2 separate regions of the Homo sapiens genome follow, and region 2 is linked to region 1. The links come from fine-mapping of genetic effects on gene expression. Tissue or cell type: whole blood. Region 1 holds a variant in brackets; the other region holds the start of a gene. All regions are shown on one strand. Distances are between the middles of the regions.

The links. PIP is the estimated chance that this variant, and not a neighbour inherited with it, causes the effect.
Region 2: it holds the start of MED25, and the variant in region 1 is fine-mapped to the expression of MED25 in whole blood (TOPMed, PIP 0.97).

Annotation. Positions count from the first base shown.
Region 1 is chr19:49,853,613-49,859,383 of GRCh38, reverse strand. PTOV1 (PTOV1 extended AT-hook containing adaptor protein) reads right to left here. Exons shown (of 12, transcript NM_001394010.1): 2 at 4,841-4,978; 3 at 4,650-4,732; 4 at 4,496-4,553; 5 at 4,307-4,414; 6 at 2,254-2,409; 7 at 1,602-1,691; 8 at 1,407-1,480; 9 at 1,270-1,327; 10 at 731-835. It overlaps MIR4749 (microRNA 4749), which reads right to left and starts at 4,793; the gene lies at 4,733-4,793. PTOV1-AS2 (PTOV1 antisense RNA 2) reads left to right here and starts at 95. Exons shown (of 5, transcript NR_110730.1): 1 at 95-178; 2 at 287-541; 3 at 758-830; 4 at 957-1,037; 5 at 2,312-2,919. RefSeq lists enhancers at 3,062-3,111, 3,142-3,201, 5,386-5,445. The variant C/G (reference allele first, on the strand shown) is at 4,194.
Region 2 is chr19:49,815,928-49,821,709 of GRCh38, reverse strand. It overlaps MED25 (mediator complex subunit 25), which reads right to left and starts at 3,421. Exons shown (of 18, transcript NM_030973.4): 1 at 3,235-3,421; 2 at 3,094-3,139; 3 at 2,414-2,538. The coding sequence starts at 3,368. RefSeq lists silencers at 3,213-3,372, 3,299-3,465 and an enhancer at 3,503-3,862.

The DNA of each region.
Region 1 (5,771 bases):
CCTGACCTCAGGTGATCCACCCGCCTCGGCCTCCCAAAGTGCTGGGATTGCAGGCGTGAGCCACCGCACCCGGCCCCTGAGGGAATGCTTGAAATTGCTTTCATGTAAAAGCACCTACACCCAGGCCCCCCCCACCCACGAACAGCTTCGTGGACAGTTTACTCAGACTGAGTCGAAGGTAATTTTAAGGTAGTTTCGGGATATTACCCAAGTATGGCCCAGCTGGAAGGTGGACATCGGGGGGAGGGCTCAGAAACACCAAAGTCCAACCTTCTCCACCTCACAGATGGAGAAACTGAGCCCGAGAGAGAGAAGAGGAGTCAGCTGAGCCTCCCCCAGATAAGACAATCGCCAAATATTCTGGGACCTTGCTGGGGGCAGACAGCCCTCCCTGCCCAGCAATGGGCCTTTGGGATGTGGCACAAGCTCCCGGGAAACCAGGAGTGACAAGGGCGCCTGTCCCTGAGGAGTGGAGAGCGCGGAGTTGGTGCTGAGTCAGCCCTGATGTGGCAGAGGAGGAGCAGGCCCCCGCAGAACCAGGGTCAGTGCCCCATCCAGTGCCGTGGGGACAGCACAGAGCCCCCAGAAGTCACGCCCACACTAGCCACCCTCTCTCCCCAGCTGGTCTGGGACATGGTGCTCTGTTCCTCTCCCATGTCCGCCCCCGTGAGCGGTCCGGGCTCGCTCTGCCCTGGCCGGCCCCTCCCCTGCGTCTGCTGGCACCACTCACGAAGCCATTGTCCATGATCCGGCACAGGCTCTTCAGTGTCTCCAGGTCCTTGGTGAAGTGGAACTGGACCAGGCGCGAGTTCCGGAACAGCGGCACTAGGGTGGTCTGCGGGGAAGCGAGGGGACCCCCAGCTCTGGCTTCTCCCACCACGGCCTCCCGGCTCCCAGCCCGCTGAGTCCCCCGGGCCCAGGACCAAACTGAGACTCCCCTGTCCTCCCTACCTCAGGAAACGTCATCTCCACCGCTCAACCAGCCCAACCCTGGAGTGCTGTGGAAGCCGCTCTCAGATCCCTTGGCAGCCCCCCAGGTGCAGGTCGTGGCTGCCCCTGCCCCGCTCAGTCCCTGCACAGCCACCAGCTGGCTGCCTGGGACCCCTTGAAGCCAAGCCTGAGGAGCTACCCACCACACCTGCTTCAGCACCCTCAGCTCCGCTCCCTCACAGCCAGCTCAGGCCACCTGGGGAGGCGCTCTTGCCCCCAGCCCCGCCCTCTGGAAGAGCTACTGCGTGCAGGCTCCAGCACCCGGCCCCAGCCCCTCACCAGCAGCTGCTGCGGGATGAGCTGCATGTACAGCTTCCTTGGCCACTGCTCGGTCCTCCTGTGGGGCACAAAGGGACGAGGGTCAGGAAGCCCCAGCTCCCCTGGATGCTGCCTCCACCCCCCAGCCCAGCACTCACAGGATCTCCCCCTGGTTCACGTAGACGTGGGATGGCAGCCACCTCTTGGACCGACTGTTGGGCTCAGGCCTGGGCTTTTGGGGGAGAGGCAAAGAGGAGCCCTCAGGGCTGGAGACCCCCAATGCCAGTGTCCCCTCCCAGCCACAGTCCGTGAGGATCTGGGGGTCCCAAGTCCCTGGGCTGCCGAGTGCTCACCTCCTGCCACTCCATGACACCACTCCATGCCAGAAACTTGTTGTTGACGATCTGGACTGGGCCTGAGTTGACACCACCAGGTCCCACTGCCTGTTGGAAGGGAACGGGGTGGGAAGAGGGGCCCAGGCTCCTGGGAAACCTGTCTGTCTGTCCTGGGGCCTGCCATCCCTCCCTCCGAGCCTTGGCCTGTTAGCCCCAGCTGGGTCCATTCTCTAGTCCCAGGGGAACAGGCCCTGCCCCTCATCTGCTCACAGCCCCCCATGGCTCCCCAGTGGCCTGAGACAGGTCCCGGCCCTCACCTGGTGCACAGGACCTGCAGAGTCTGCCTCAACTGGCAAGGCATGACCAGGACACGTGGTTACCAGGCAGGGCCTTCCAGCCGCAGGACGATCCCAACCCCTGCCCAGCTCCCCGCTCCGCTGGCTTCCCTGCCGCCGCGCCAAGACCCACCCTCCAGCCCTGCAGAGCCGCCCAGTGGCCGCTTTTCCATGGAGCCCTGGTGGGAACCCGCCCGGCATCCTCCGGGCTCCCCTGCAGCTCCTTGCTCCAGCCATCGCATCACACTCCGCCCACACCAAGTCTGGCTGCCCAACCAGGGCAGTGGGGTCTAATCCCCCTCTGTCCCCAGAGGGGCTGTGCTTGGCTGGCACACCTGCTTGCGGGTGGTGATGACCTGCCGGATGGCACTGACGAAGCCGCTCTGGTCGTAGGGGATGAGGCCCATGAAGATCTTCTTCTTGGACGAGTACAGGAGCATGAGCACGCGCACCTCACAGGGGGAGATGTGGGGGAACAGCATGCAGCCCGCCTGCGGGGGCCGCGGGTCAGGACCCTGTGGTCACTGCCCGGGGCCACTGTGCCCCCACCACCCTGGACCGCCCCACCTGTAGGGGATGAAGGGAGATCATCGGTGGACAGAGGCCCCCACAGTCAAGGCCATGGCCATAGGTGAGGGGCCTCTGAGAGCCCGTGCAGCGCCCATCGGCATCCCCCGACCCTGCCATGGCTGAGGTCAGAGTGGCACCCGGCACCCAGGCTGCGGTGAGAATGCCAAGAAGGCACTACCTCCCACCCACATCACCCCCTGCCGCCAGCCCTCCTGACTGCCTGATGGGGTGACTTGGCCTGGGGGTTAAGAGCACAGGCAGCGCCCCACCGTTCTGCTGCCTCCTAGCTGTGTGACCTAACACCAGCCACCTCCTGCTTCTGGGCCTCCATCATCTGTAAAACCGGGTAATAGTGCACACAGTTGGTGCCACATAAAGGCTCAACAGATAAAGTGCTGGTGCCTCTTGAGGATGGCGCATGGGAGAACTAAGCCTGACAGATGTGCCTGGCTGTGGTGTCTAGATGAAGTGGTGTGACCGTCCCAAAACCCCATGTCCCCTCCCCACACCGGGCCACCCCCACAGTGCTGTCCCCTCCACGCTGCCGGCCTAACTTCTCAACCTTGGTGTCCAGCCCAGGGATCACCCGCTCAGGGCCCTGTCCCTGGCCTCCCTGGAGCCATGCACAGTCAGCCTCCCAGGGCCATGCCTGGGGGGTGAGTATGGATGTCCACTTTCCCTACAGACTGGGTACTCGGGGCCCAGATATGGCAGGCCCTCAACAAACGGTGCTGGGTGAAGGGGGAACGGGTCACTTAAGAGACCTCATGCCAGGCACAAGCCCTGGTCTGCCCCTGGTCTCCTGAGGGAGAAGGGAGGCCCTAGCGGAACCCAGGGCGCTCAACGGCAGCTGGGACGGGTAGAGGCAGACTGTCCCAACAGGGAACAGGGACTGGGAATGTCCCAGAGCCAGGTCCTCTGGGCAGACAACTCGCTCCCACCCCACCCCTGCCTCCTCTCCAGCACCTGCCATCTTTCACAGCCCAAGCCCCCTTTCTGACCTGCCCTGCGCCAGAATCTCAGTCACCTGAACAGCCTCACCAGCTGGGTTCACCCAGCACTCACTAGGTACTAAAGTCACCATCTCAAGCGCTTTACACAAATTCCCTCCCTCCAGCCTCCCGGTGGCCCTAGGAAGCACGGCTCCCCTGTCCTCCCTACCTCAGAAAATGTCATCTCTACCCCTCAACCAGCCCAACCCTGGAGTGCTGCGGAAGCCGCTCTCAGATCCCTTGGCAGCCCCCCGGGTCCAGGTCATGGCCGCGCCTGCCCCACTCAGTCCCTGCACAGCCACTGGCTGGATACCTGGGTCCCCTTGGAGCCAGGCCTGAGGACCTACTCACCGCGCCTGCTTCAGCACCCTCAGCTCTGCTCCCTCACGGCCAGCTCAGGCCACTCGGGGAGGTTAGCCCATTTTACAGACCAGAATACCAAGCCCCAACGTGCCACTCCCTCCTGGCTGGCTCTTGTGCCTAGCACACCCATTTACCAGGTCCCTGCCATACGCTATGTGTCCCCGACAGGCTCCTGGGCCCCAACAGGGCTGGCCCCAGTCCCTCCCTGCACTCACGCCCCCAGGGCCACCTCGAAGCTGGGCACAGATGCAGAAACTGGAGGCCTCTCAGGCTGAGTTCCTTCACCCTGTGCTCTACGGAGGGTGCCTGGAGTCAGTCATTTCCAGATGGGGTCCGAGAGGCCACGAGGG[C/G]TACCCTCGGCCCCAGGGGAGACCCCCCGACCCCCGCCTGGACTGTGTGAGCAGAGCGCTGCCTCCAGCTGTACTTGTCACCACAGTGCTACAAGGGAGCCCGCCCCACTCACGAAGCCGTTGCCCATGATGCGGCAGAGCCCCTTGAGCGAGTCGCAGTCTCTGTTGGTGAAGTGGAACTGTGCCAACTGGGAGTTCCGGAACAGGGGGCCCAGGGTGGTCTGGGGGCGACAGGACAGACAGCTGGGTCAGCCAGGCATGGGGGTGCTCAGAGTGGATGGGGTGGGAGGGGCGGGTCTCACCAGCAGCTGCTGAGGGATCAGCTGCATGATCAGCTTCTGCGGCCACTGGTCGGTCTCCCTATGGGAAGGAGCTGGTCAGAAAGGGCTGCCCTGATCCCCACGGCCACAGCCACTGCCCCTGCCACCGCCCTGGCTGCCACGCCCCGGCACTCACAGGTTCTCGCCTTGGTTCACGTAGGCTTGGCAGGGCAGGGTCCGCTTCAGCTTTGCAGTGGAGTCAGAGTAGGGTCTGCGCTTCTGTGGGGGCAGGAGGGGCGTCACTGTGCACAGCCTAGATGCCCTGGCCTGTCCCCGCAGGGACAAGACAAGACCCTGGAGGCCAGCCGCAGCCCCACAGAGACTCACCTCCTGCCACTCGAGGACGCCGCTCCAAGCCAGCAGCTTGTTGCTGAGCCGGTGCTCGCTCACGGCCAGACCCCCGAGGGTGAGCCCAGGTGAGGAGGGACCGATGGGACCCAGTGCCCCGAAGACCCGAGCACCTTCCTGCAATGGAGTGGGGGATAGGTGGGAAAACTGAGGCCGGGGCCTGCAAGGACAGGCAGTCCCCACACACCCCAGAGGGGACGTCCCAATATTCAGCCCCAAATCCCCTGCTGGAAGCCCACGGGGCCATGTCCAAACCCTCTGCTCACCCCTCAGGACCCCCACACGCTGGTCCTCATGTCCTTTCCCGCTGCCCACCCTCAGGACCCTTCCTTCCCAGAGCCTGCTGTCACCTTGACACTGGCCCAGCAGAGTCCTGAAGCCTTCAGCCAGCCCCACCTCCAGCCTTTGCCCCAGCTGTGCGCCTGATCGATTCTTGAGACCCAAGTTAGAAGCCAGCTGTAGGGGGCTTTCCCCGTGCCCCAGGCTGGGCCCAGGGCTTCCTTGCAGCCTCCACAGGCACAAGCCGGCTTGCGCTGTGTCTGTCCCACACACCAGCTTGCCCTGTCTTTCCCAGGCTGAAACTCTCCTAAAGCTCCCTGTCATCCCAAAGTTCAATTCCTTCCTCTGGCTCAGGCCAGTGCCCACCTCTCTGGCCTTATAAGTCTGACCCCGGGGGGAGGCAGGAAGGAGATGACAAGAAACACAGAGGGGACTAAACCATCCAGGAGAAAGACAGCGAGGAAAAGGGGGAAACATTTGGAAGACAGCTGGGACACCACCCCCAGAGGGGTCTCACAGACCAAAACATGTAGAACACCAAGAGAAAGTTCTAGCAATAAAGCCAAGCAACGCCACAAATGCTACTCACAGGCACTCTCCCCACTATTTTTATTACTATTTTTTTTTTGAG
Region 2 (5,782 bases), 38 kb after region 1:
CAAGAGCTGGGATTACAGGCATGCGCCACCATGCCCAGCTAAGGCCTGTAATTTCAGCACTCCAGCACTTAGGGAGGTCAAGGCAGGATGATTGCTTGTATTTTTAGTAGAGGCAGGGTTTCACCATGTTGGACAGGCTGGTCTCGAACTCCTGACCTCAGGTGATCCACCTGCCCCAGCCTCCCAAAGTGCTGGGATTACAGGCGTGAGCCACCACGCCCGACCTACAAAAATATTTTTAAGAAATCAGCCAGGTGTGCTGGCATTTGGCTACCGTCCCTGCTACTCCAGCTACTCGGGAAGCTGAGATGGGAGGATCGCTTGAGCTTGAGCCCAGGAGGTCGAGGCTGCAGTGAGCCGTGACTGAGCCACTGCACTCCAGCCTGCGTGACAGAGTGAGACCCTTCCTCAAAAACAAGAGAGGCCTGGGGCTTCCTCTTTGCTCTCTCTATTGGGTCCCTCAATCTGAGGAATGCCAGTTGCCATGTTAGACAGTCAACCAGCCCTGTGGAGAGGTCTTGTGGCCAACAGCCACAGACTCGCCACCTTGGGAACGGATTCCCCACCACCAGTCAAACCCCTGGATGGCTGCAATCCTGCCGACCTCCTGACTATTGCCTTGTGAGACCCTCAGCCCAACCATCCAGCCAAGCCACTCTTGTGTCCTTGACTCACAGAAACTGCGTTAGATAATAAATGTTTGCAGTATGCAGCCATTATTTGGTGGTAATCTATTATACAGCTAAGAATAAGTAATACAATGAAATACTAATACAAGTACTATCCACATCCCCACTTCACAAGTGAGATACTAGGCACAGAGGGGACAGACTCCTGGGTCTGAGAGTTAGTTCTGTGCTGGAAGAGCCAGGATTTAACCCGTCTGCCTGACTCCAGACTCTACAATGTCAACTATCAAAATCCGATCCAGCGCCAGGCGTGGTGGTGAGGCAGGAAATTAAAGAAAAAAAATTAAAAAGAGAAATAAGTTCTATGTATTAGGCTGACTTGTCTGAGAGGCAGCAATGGGCACAGCCCAGACCCAGGAAAAGTCTTGATAATACTATCTAAAGTGCTCTTGGAGACTCTCCCAGCACTCCCTCAACATAGAGAGAAGAAAAAACAAATTTTCCTTTGTTTTATGGAATGAGTTTATAGATTCCTGTTCTCTGTAACTCATGACTTCAAGTATTCTGTTTTATCTAAGAAGTACAGCGAAGGTCATGAGAAGCCTGAGCTGCCTGGGCACCACAGTGAAGGTTATGGGATAAGCCCGTGCCTAGGCTAACCTAGATAAGGGACATCTGGGTTGCATAGCAACGGTTATGTGCAATCCTGAGTTATAAACCTGTTACAACAATTTGATTAACTGTTTTTGTTCTGCCTCTGTATCCCTGCTGTCACGCCACTGTAAGCTTGCTTCAAGCTAGCCCACCCCCTTTTGTGAAGTGTGTATAAAAGTCAAGTGCTACCTTTGTTCTGGGCCGTCTTTGGACGTGAGTCGGCTTGGGCCTGAGTGCACTCAATGAAAGATTCTCCTGCTTTAACCCGAGGGCTCTCTCCTGTCGTCCTGAATCCCGCAACAGTGGCTCACCCCTATAATCCCAGCACTTTGGGAGGCTGAGGCAGGCAGATCACATGAGGTCAGGAGTTTGAGACCAGCCTGGCCAACACAGTGAAACTGTCTCTACTAAAAATACAAAAAAAAAAAAAAAAATTAGCTGGGCATAGTGGCGTGTGCCTGTAATCCCAGCTACTTGGGAGGCTGAGGCAGAAGAATCGCTTCAACCCAGGAGGTACAGGTTGCAGTGAGCCACGACTGTGCCACTGCACTACAAGCCTGGGAGACAGAGCAAGACACTGTTTCAAAAAAAAAAAAAAAAATTCTGACCCAAGCCACAGAGGGATCTATCCTGGCTCTGACCCATCCCCCTGCACTGAGGCTACAATGTACCCATCTGGAAAAGGAGGACAGGGGTAGACGGAAAAAGAGAGGACAGAAAGGGGACAATCACACAGGGAGTACAAGGTGGCTGCTGGAGCTCAGCCAGGCCTCCCTGAATGGGAAGGTTTTTCCTACTTCTAAACTGATGGCAACATTGCTGAGCACACAGAAGCCACCACAAAAGTGACTTCTGACAAAAACACAATCACCCTCAAAGTCCTTTCAATCCCTTAATGTATGAGATGTTTCCTGCAGCTCAAACCCAAGCCATCGCTCATTCACGGCCCCTCGCAGGGACCCCAACCACCCCAAGCCATTACTTATTCACAGCCCCTCACGGGGACACCAACCACCCCAAGCCATCACTTATTCACAGCCTCTCACGGGGACACCAACCACCCCAAGCCATCACTCATTCACGGCCCCTCACAGGGACCAGCAACCCACCCCAAGTGGGGGAAAGCTCACTTAATGCCATCGAGCCAGGTGACAAACTCATAGGCGCTGCTGGTGGGAGCGTGACATTGTACGTAGGACTCGGGAGCGCAGTCCACTGTGTTGAACACCACGAGGCTGTACTGGGTCCCCCCATACTGGGAGGGGAGGACAGAAAACTTTTAATCTGGGACCTCAATTCCCTTTTCCCTTAGAGAAGGAATCAGGGCTCCCAGCTTCCCGTTCCTCCAGAACCAGGAACTCCTCAGCTTCCTCCTTCCTCAGACCCAGCAATCTCGGCCCCAGCCCCTTCTCCCTCAGACCCAGGAATCCAGGCCCCCGGCCCCTCCTCCCTCAGACCCAGGAGCCCAGGCCCCAGCACCTCCTCCCTCAGACCCAGGAATCCAGGCCTCAGCTCCTCCTTTCTCAGACCCAGCAGTCCAGACGCCCAGCCCTTCCTCCCTCAGACCCAGGGATCTGGGCCCCTAGCTCCCTCCTCCCTCGGACCCAGGAATCCGGGCCCCAGCGCCTCCACCCTCAGACCCAGGAGTCCAGGCCCCCAGGCCCTCCTCCCTCAGAACAAGGAGTCCAGACCCCCAGCCCCTCCTCCCTCAAACTCAGGAGTCCAGGCCCAGCCCTTTCTCCCTCCCTCAGACCCAGGAGTCCAGGCCCCCGGCCCCTCCTCCCTCAGGCCCAGGAGTCCCTAGACTCACGTCTCCCCCGAAGTCCGTCTCAGCAGGAGGACCACCATTAAAATACCTGTGAGGGTAGGAAGTGAAAGGTCGGAGTCAGGCAAGAAACTGTGCGAAACTGAAGTGGGAGGGCGGGGTTAGAGTCGCGGAAACAGCACTCACTCGATGGCCGGGAGCAGGTAGTGCTTGCGGAGCCCCTCGAAGTAGGGTCCCAGGTTGGCCGTACCCTCAATCACAAACACCACGTCGGCCACCACGCTCCCGGCGCGGGCCGGGCCCTCGGACCCGGGGACCATACCCCGTGCGGTACCCGCCACCACCACTGCAGCCGCAGCCGACGCCGCGGAATGAGCAGAAATGCGCCTGCGCCGCGCGCGCGCTCGCGTCGGGCGGTTTAGGGCTGCTGGGAATGCTGCCATGTTTGTGCGGGGCACGCGCTGAGGCTTCGTTCTAGCTCCATCCTCCTTCGCCCCCACCGCGTGGAAGACTCAGAAAGGGCATAGTTAGCCCTTCTAGGGGCCTGATGGGTTAGACGGAATTATTGTCAAAAGCTAAATAAATTGAAAGCGGCTCAGTCAGCCGCCATCTTTGAGCGGGGCGTCCAGGTCCGCCTCTTGTCTCAAAGGGAGGGGCAGGAGACCTGGTTGCTATGCAACGCGTACGCTGCCCTTGTTTTCGTTTTTGTGTTTTGTTTTTTGTTTGTTTGTTTTTTCGAAACGGGAGTCTCGCCCTGTCGCCCAGGCTGGAGTGCAGTGGCGCGATCTCGGCTCACTACAACCTCCGCTTCCCGGGTTCAAGCGATTCTCCTGCCTCAGCCTCCCGAGTAGCTGGGATTACAGGTGCCCGCAACCACGCCCCGCTAATTTTTGTATTTTTAGTAGAGAAAGAGTTTCACCCTGTGGGCCAGGCTGTTCTCGAACTCCTGACCTCAAGTGATTCGCCCGCCTTGGCTTCCCAAAGTGCTGAGATTACAGGCGTGAGCCACCGCGCCGGGCCCGCTGCCCTTGTTTTGTAACCGTTAGATTAAGTTTCTGGTTCTGTTCTTTCGGGCGTGGGGACTAGGGGAGGGACGCGAGAAGGATCCAATCACATCGGCGGAAACGAGGTTACTAGGCGACGCTTTAAGGTCGTCCTCAACTTGGAAGGGAGGGCAGTTGTTTTCCCCCCCGAAAAGAAGCCGAACACCAAACCAAGTGCGGGTTGCTAAGCAACACCTGAGCGTTGTTTTCTGGGAGAGGAGCCAGAAACTGGCTTAGAACGTAAATACATTCCAGGTGGATTAAAAATGTAAGTGCAACAAATGAAACCCGAAAACTATCTGAAGGGAAAAAATCTTAATGACTGCCATGGAGTTTCTTAGCACTACAGCAAAGTTAGAAAACGTAGTCTTCATTAATTTTTCCCAAAAGACTGTATAAACCAAGTTGAAAAATATACGGCCAACTGGGAAAATCTTTCTAGCGTGTTTGTTGACAGAAATGTACTACGCAAATAAATCTTACTGATGAATAACAATATAGAAAAATAGAAACACTTCATTACTATTATCTTTTAATTTTAATTTTTATTTTTTGAGGCAGGGTCTCTTTCTGTTGTGCAGGTTGAAGTGCAGTGGCCCAATCTTGGCTCACGGCAGCCTCTACTCGCACTGGAGCCACTCTTCAGCCTGTGGAGCAGCTGGGACCACAGCCGCGCACTACCACTTCCAGCTAATTTTTAAATTTTTTGTAGAGATGGGGTCTCACTGTGTTGCTCTGGCGTGTCTCAAACTCCTCGGCTAAAGCGATCCCAGGTGTTAGCCATCGTGCCCTGCCACTTTATATTTGTTTTAATAGAAAGAAACCTGACCAGGGCCGGACGCCGTGGCTCACGCTTGTAATCCCAGCACTTTGGGAGGCCAAGGCGGGCAGATCACCCGAGGTAAGGGGTTCAAGACCAGCCTGGCCAACATGGTGAAACTCCTTCTAACTACTAAAAATAAAAAAATTAGCCGTCCTGGTGGGCGTCTGTAATCCCAGCTACTTGGGAGGCTGAGTCAGGAGATTCTCCTGAACCCGGGAGGCGGAGGTTGCAGTCAACTGAGATTGTGCCACTGCATTCCAGCCTGGGCGGCAGAGTTAGACTCCGTCTCAAAAAAAATAAAAATAAATAAATAAAAAGAAACCTGACTAGTTTCACACAAACACACACACAAAATTTTGAATGGCCAGTAAATATTTTAAAACATAATCTTCGGCCGGGCGAGATGGCTCATGCCTGTAATTCCAGCACTTTGGGAGGTAGAGGCGGGCGCATCACGAGGTCAGTATCACTGGGCGTCGTGGTGCCCACCTGTAATCCCAGCAACTCGAGAGGCTGAGGCAAGGAGAATCGCTTGAACCCGGGAGGCAGAGGTTGCAGTGAGCCGAGATCACGCCACTGCACTCCAGCCTGGGCGACAGAGCGAGACTGTCTCAAAAAAAAAACAAAAAAAACAAAAAAAACAGGCCGGGCGCAGTGGCTCATGCTTGCAATCCCAGCACTTTGGGAGGCCAAGGCGGGCAGATCACGAGGTCAGGAGATCGAGACCATCCTTGCTAACACGGTGAAACCCCGTCTCTACTGAAAATCCAAAAAAAAAAAAAAAAAAATTAGCGGGGCGTGGTGGCGGGCGCCTGTAGTCCCAGCTACTCCGGAGGCTGAGGCAGGAGAATGGCGTGAACCCGGAAGG